2 separate regions of the Homo sapiens genome follow, and region 2 is reported to be linked to region 1. Evidence: microRNA targets listed by miRTarBase, many of them from high-throughput screens and not tested one by one. Region 1 holds a microRNA gene; the other region holds the end of a gene's coding sequence.

Region 1 (3,242 bases):
TGACTGAGATTCATCTTGTCTACAACAGTTTCTTATATTAGCCACAGCTAATATAAGACACATTTGACATCTTAGCAAGTAACTGGCATTTAGATGCAAGGTTTAAGCCCATTGGAATGGTACCTTGGAATCGTTACCCAAAGAAAATAGGATAAACATGGCAGCTACAGTCAAAGAACTCACTGGGGTTGGCATTAGTGGGTGAGGGTTGAATCAACTACACCCTTCCTGCAGAGAAAGCAGGTCTATTCCGAGAAATGATGGCAAGATGTTGGGGAAAAACAAATTTCAGTGTTACGGACAAGCAGATTACACTAAAAAGACACGAGTGAACAGGAACAAAAAGAAATTGTATCAATACGGACACCCACTGGGGATTACAGAATAGACTGGATGGACTTGGAGGATTACCCACTCTCTTAATGAAGGAACCATGGTTTGGATTGATTATACTAAATTGATGGGAGGCCATTGTATGACATGACCAACCCAAATGAAATCTGTGGGACCAGGTGCTATGTAATCTGTTTTTAAAGAAATGGGATCTTGCTATGTTGGCCCAGGCTGGAGTGCAGTGGCTATTCAAAGGTGGGATCTGTGCACGGTATAGCCTTAAAATCAAAGCACCCTCCCGCCCCGGCCCCTGCAGTAACTGGGACTGTGTGCCCCATGATGCCTGGCCAAGTCAACTATCTTTGAAATGGGTCATCAGGACAAGGTGGCTCACACCTGTAGGATCGCTTGAGCTCAGGAGTTGAGACCGTCCTGAGCAACAGAGACCCCATCTCTACCAAAAATTAAAAGCTGAACCAAGTGTTGTGTCACGCCCCATGTAATCCCAACTACTTGGGAGGCTGACTCAGGAAGACCACTTGAGGCCGGACACAGTGGCTCACGCCTGTAATACCAGCACTTTGGGAAGCCAGGGAGGCAAATCACTTGAAGTCAGGAGTTGAGAACAGCCCAGCAAACATGGTGTAACCCCATCTCTGCTAAAAATACAAAAATTAGCATGACATGGTGGTGGGCGCCTGTAATCCCAGCTACATGGGAGGCTGAGGTGGCAGAACTGCTGGAACCTGGGAGATGGAGGTTGCAGTGAGTGGAGATTGTCCTACTGCACTCCAGCCTGGGTCACAGAGCCAGATTCCATCTCTAAATGAATGAATGAATAAATAAATAAATAAATAAATAAATAAATAAATAAATAAATAGAGGGTCTCTTGGGCCCAGGAGAGCTAGGTTGGAACTGCCACTGCACTCCAGCCTGGGCAACAGAGACCCTGTCTTGGAGAAAAACAAAATCAGAACCCCAACATCATCCGAGTCTGATGATGAGCGTGCTCTGCAAATGTATTACCAAGATCAGCATCAACTTCAACGCTGCTTTACTCAAACCGAAACAGTCCAAAGGGAAGCACTTTCTTTTCTCTCAGACAACAGAAAGTACTTCCCTCTGGAGGGTCACAGCCTGAGATCTTCTTGCTCCAGCACTCTGGGTTTATTGTTGGAATTTTCCTTGACCAGGTTTAAATGGACACAAAAATAAAGATGCATTTTTCCTGGCCCTGTTTGCATGTTTTCTGGAATCCAGAATATAAACCCCCTAAAAGGACCATCTCCAGTTCCTTCTTTCAAAGGCTCAGCAGGTTAGCCTTGTTCATCAAGGGGCAATCCTCCTGAGTTTTGCCCCCAAAGAGAAAAAGCAATGCCTACTACTCATACCTTATCTTTAACCAAGAGAATCGAACTGAATTTCTAGAGAACAGCAATGGATTTTGAGCCAAGTGTTCACTTGAGTTCCAGTATAGGCACATGTAGTACCCATGGGGGCATCCAAAATGGAATCTAAGATGTTGAAGAATGTACATTGTCGCACACACAAACATCCTCCAGGAGAGACCACAGGCTACGCTGTAAAAGCTCCTCAATAAAAAAATACACAAGTACCTGTTGGGTGCGGTGGCTCACATCTCTAACCCCAGCACTTCAGGACGCCGAAGTGAGAGGATCACTTGAGCTCAAGAGTTCCAGACAAGCCTGGGCAACATGGTGAAGCTTCATCTGTACAAAAAATACAAAAGTGAGCCAGGTGTGGTGGTGCATACCTGTAGACACTAATTCAGGAGGCTGCGGTGGCAGGTGGAGGTTGCAGTGAGCCAACATTGCACCACTGCACTCCAGCCTCGGTGATATAGTCAGGCTGTGTCTTGTAAAAACTAGAAACACATACACACACACACACACACACACACACACACACAAAGACACACACTCAAAGTGATAGTCTCCTGCCTCACCCTCCGGAGTAGCTGAGACTACAGGCGTGCGCCACCAGCCCTGGCTAATTTTTTGTATTTTTAGCAGAGACATGGTTTCACCATGTTGGCCAGTCTGGTCTCGCCCTCCTGATCTCAGGTTATCCACCCGCCTCGGCCTCCCAAACTGCTGGGATTACAGGCGTGATCCACCGCACCTGGCCATACATCATATATTTTTGAGACCCTGTCTCAAAAGAAAGAAAGTTCCATATACTGTATGCTCACAGAAAGAATAATTCCTACACATAAGTCCTTGCTTTGGCAGCTCACACCCCCGTCTCTAAAATACAAAACCTAAATCAAGTGTGCGTTGATAACGTGGTCATACACCCTGTATTTCAGCTTCATTTACCCAATAAAAACTCAAAGCCCATGCACTCCACCTCTGTGCTCTTGCGAAGCAATGCACATCCCATCTGCAAGGGACACTGAGGTTCCCTTCAACTCTACCTCAAGTCAAGTCAAGGGAGGTTCTGTAAACCAGTGCAGGCATAACTTCCACGGAGTGAAAGGTGTTGAGGGCTGGACGAACAGGCATCACTCACTATGGCAACAAGAGCGGATGCGCATCCCACCTGTTACTAGGGAGGCCCTTCTAGGGTCCTCAAGGTTTTTGTGAAAGTATCTGTGGTTTTGTCCCATGTGACATTTATCACTGCAACTGAGATTCATCTTGTCTATAATAGCTTGTTTCTCATATTAGCCACAGCCAACATTTCACAGCTTACCAAGAAATTTGCATTTAAATGTGAGGTTTTGCAGGTTGGAATGGTACACTGGAAAAATTACCTGCAGAAAACAGGATAAACAGTGCAGCTGCAGTCACAGCACTCACTACGGTTGGCATGAGTGGGTGAGGGTTGAATCAACTACACCCTTCCTGCAGAAAAAGGTCTATTCCGAGAAATAAGTGGAAGCTGT
Region 2 (3,000 bases), not on the chromosome of region 1:
TCTCAAAACAGTGGCTAATGATGCAATGAAAAGAGGTTGGTACAAAGGAGAGCCCAGGGTGAGGGAGAGAGCATTGAGTTTAGGCCAAGGGGTCCAGAGGCTACTTCTGGGAACTTGGGGCCTGATATTCCCGGGGATAGCCTAAGAACAGTGTGTTTCCTGATATTCCCGGGGATAGCCTAAGAACAGTGTGTTTCCTGATATTCCCGGGGATAGCCTAAGAACAGTGTGTTTCCTGATATTCCCGGGGATAGCCTAAGAACAGTGTGTTTCATGAACGACAAGGGTGTCAGTGTGTTAGGAAATGCTGCCAGCTGTGTTCGGACTTCTGTGTCTCACCCAGGACCTGAGCGAGGCCATGAGTATGGGGGAGCTGCAGCGGGAGCTGGGTCTACAGGCTATCGATAACCAGCGGGAGGTTTTCCTCTTGGCAGCCAGCATTGCCCCTGCAGGACCCACCTTTGAAGAGCCTGGCACCGTGCACATCTGGAAACTGCTCTTGGAGCTCCTCTCCTAGGCTGGAGCTCTCCTGCTTGCCACCTGCCTGTCAAGACCATAGTTGTACTGCTGCTGCTTCATTGCCAGACTGGGCCTGGGGCAAGAGCCACATGGCAGCATTTCCCTTTTCCCCTCCTTTGCCTTTCAAGAGCAGGGCCTGGGCAAGGCCAAGAACCATGCAGAAGCCTTCCTGGTGAGGTGGCCGTGAAGCCGAAGCAGGGAGGTGGGTGAGACAGAGGGTGGGGAGGATAGTGTCTGGCTCATTCCAGGCTGGAATGTGGATCCAGCTTTCCCTTCTCTTACCTGTACAGTGAGATGCTCAGTGGGCTCAATCCTCCACTACAGGTCCCGGTACCTGAGGAACCAGTGTAGGTGTCAGAAATACTCCTAGAGCCTCAAGGTCTCCCAGTCCAGAAACAGTCTGGTGACGTCATGCCCTTCTCATGTGGGCAGCTTCTGAGTGGTGACACAGCAAGCCTTTGTTCCTGTCCTGCATTGTCCAGCCCCAGCTCCACCTAAGTGACTTGTGGCCTTGTGCAATCTCTGCCTCTCTGACCCCAGGGCCATTATTTTTAAAGGGAGGTGGTTTCCTAATTCGGAGATGCCTTTCCCAGCCATGGGAGTGTGAAGTGCTAGGATGAACCTGGCCATCCTAGCAAGGAGCTTTCTGAAGACCTCCCTGCCTTTCCCTGAGCCCAGGCCTGGCCTGCCAGCCTCTCTTGACTACAGAATAACTGATATTCACCCACCAAACAGAAAAAGTGAAGGCTGGGTTTTTCCCCTCTAATCTGGAGACAAGCTGCTGCTCTCGTACTAACTGTGCCAGTGCCCATGTTTACAGAAGTCAGGGGAAGGAAGGAGCCTGTGTCCCTGGGACGACAGTCAACTGGAGCTAGGTGTTGACCTCAGAACTGCATTTTATTTATTAATTTATAAGCAGAACAGGCCAGAGTTCTAGGCTCTGTTTCTAGGTGCTGTTTTCAAAACCCCAGATGACAGTCATAGAAAATTTGGAACTTAGGAAAATAGCTGGAATCATGAATGACAATGAGATAACATACAGATGTCAGTGGAGACAAAGTTGTGGGTTCCTCCTCCCACCTGGCTTTGAGGCTGTCGTCGATATCATAGTACTTTACATGGATTCACATGAACTGAAACGCCACCACTTGGCCCAGGATGTTGAAAGGGTGCAAATTCCTTCTGGGTAGATAAGAAATGACTCTGGGAGAGGATTTCCCTTATGTGAATCTAGGTAAAAAGATGGAAAAAAATTGTATTATGTGATCCTAAGGACAGGAATAGCAGACCAGCCAACGGGATGGCCTTGGGTACATCACTCAGCCTTTCTGGACCCAATTTTTCCCCAGTGAAAGCCAAGTTGGACTGAATTTCTGGAGTTCTCATCAGTGCACATTCCATAGTTCTCCAGTGCTTGGCGATCAGCCCAATTGAAGGACTGGCTCTGTACTGACACTTATTATCGGTACAGGCAAAGAGGAGCCTGTTGTCTGTTAGGGACCACTAAATCAACAACCACAAATGGATTTTTTTTTTAAGAGGAGCTGTGCACCTCAATTTGCTGTCTAGTTGAGAATAGAGATTGTGTGCCTTCATTTCATTTGACATTTACCCAGCATGCCTCAGTTCCACACCGTGACCAGTGTAAGAAGAGGAACTATGATAAAAACAGTTCAACAAGCCGCAAGGAGGGTGGGAAATTCTGAAGTCCAGAAGCGAGTGTGATCTTTGGAATAGTGGCTGCTGTGCCCTTGGGCGCCATTTGAAGAATCACTGTTCTTGAAAGTGCTGGTTCACTTTCTGCAGTAAGAAGTGATTTATGGGCTTTTATGTAAAATTTTAAGAATGACTTGGGTTTCAGAGTAGCCTTTGAAACTTTGCTGGCAGCTTTTCATTTTGTCATTGGAAGGCTAAGAGACTTTTCTCCTTTGTTCTATGAACTCCTTGTTCTTCAGGGCTTGAAGGCAAAAAAACCTTAGACAACTTTAACGAAGTTTAAAAAGTATGTTCTGTTTTTGAGCAGAAAAAAGATTCGTGAACTGGTTAGTACTTAGCACCAAAAGCAGTTCAGAATGCTCAGCCCCACAATGTGTGTAGGCTACATTTATAGCCAGAGAAACGAAAATAACTTAGGTTGCCTGATTGGCTGCAGTCTGGCATTTGCCTTACCTGAACATGTTTTAGCAGCCTTCAGCCGACGATTGACTGAAGGTTTGGCTGCTGTGATTGGCTAAAATTCGGCTACTTGTTAGAAGAACATACTTTTAGGTTAGGTTACGAGTTGTTTACACGTTAAGTTACAATTCACTGTGTACAGAGGCAGCTTTAGGCCAGACTTAATTCAGCTTCACAGTGTCCCTCATTTTGCTCAGCCCCTTAATTTTGAGAGATTGACCAAAATCCCACGCACTGACACTACCTTCTGTCACTATTTGACCTCATTATGGAACTCACAGTTTACAATGTTAAATCAGTTAGCGG

What was found. The annotated mature microRNA hsa-miR-520a-3p reads AAAGUGCUUCCCUUUGGACUGU and lies in region 1 at 1,403-1,424, opposite strand. An mRNA with a match to its seed (bases 2 to 7 or 8) in the 3' UTR can be bound and repressed. Matches are read on the target gene's strand: a 7mer-m8 pairs with bases 2 to 8, a 7mer-A1 pairs with bases 2 to 7 and ends in A, and an 8mer does both.
Region 2: the mRNA of ARL10 is a reported target of hsa-miR-520a-3p. The part of its 3' UTR that is shown has no 7-base or 8-base seed match.

Annotation. Positions count from the first base shown.
Region 1 is chr19:53,689,115-53,692,356 of GRCh38, reverse strand. MIR520A (microRNA 520a) reads right to left here and starts at 1,476; the gene lies at 1,392-1,476. The region is part of intron 2 of LOC107985342 (a long non-coding RNA gene); the gene reads right to left.
Region 2 is chr5:176,371,379-176,374,378 of GRCh38, forward strand. It overlaps ARL10 (ARF like GTPase 10), which reads left to right. Exons shown (of 4, transcript NM_173664.6): 4 at 344-3,000. The coding sequence ends at 517. Among named protein-coding and RNA genes, the nearest start is that of MIR1271, 4.9 kb to the left of the region's middle.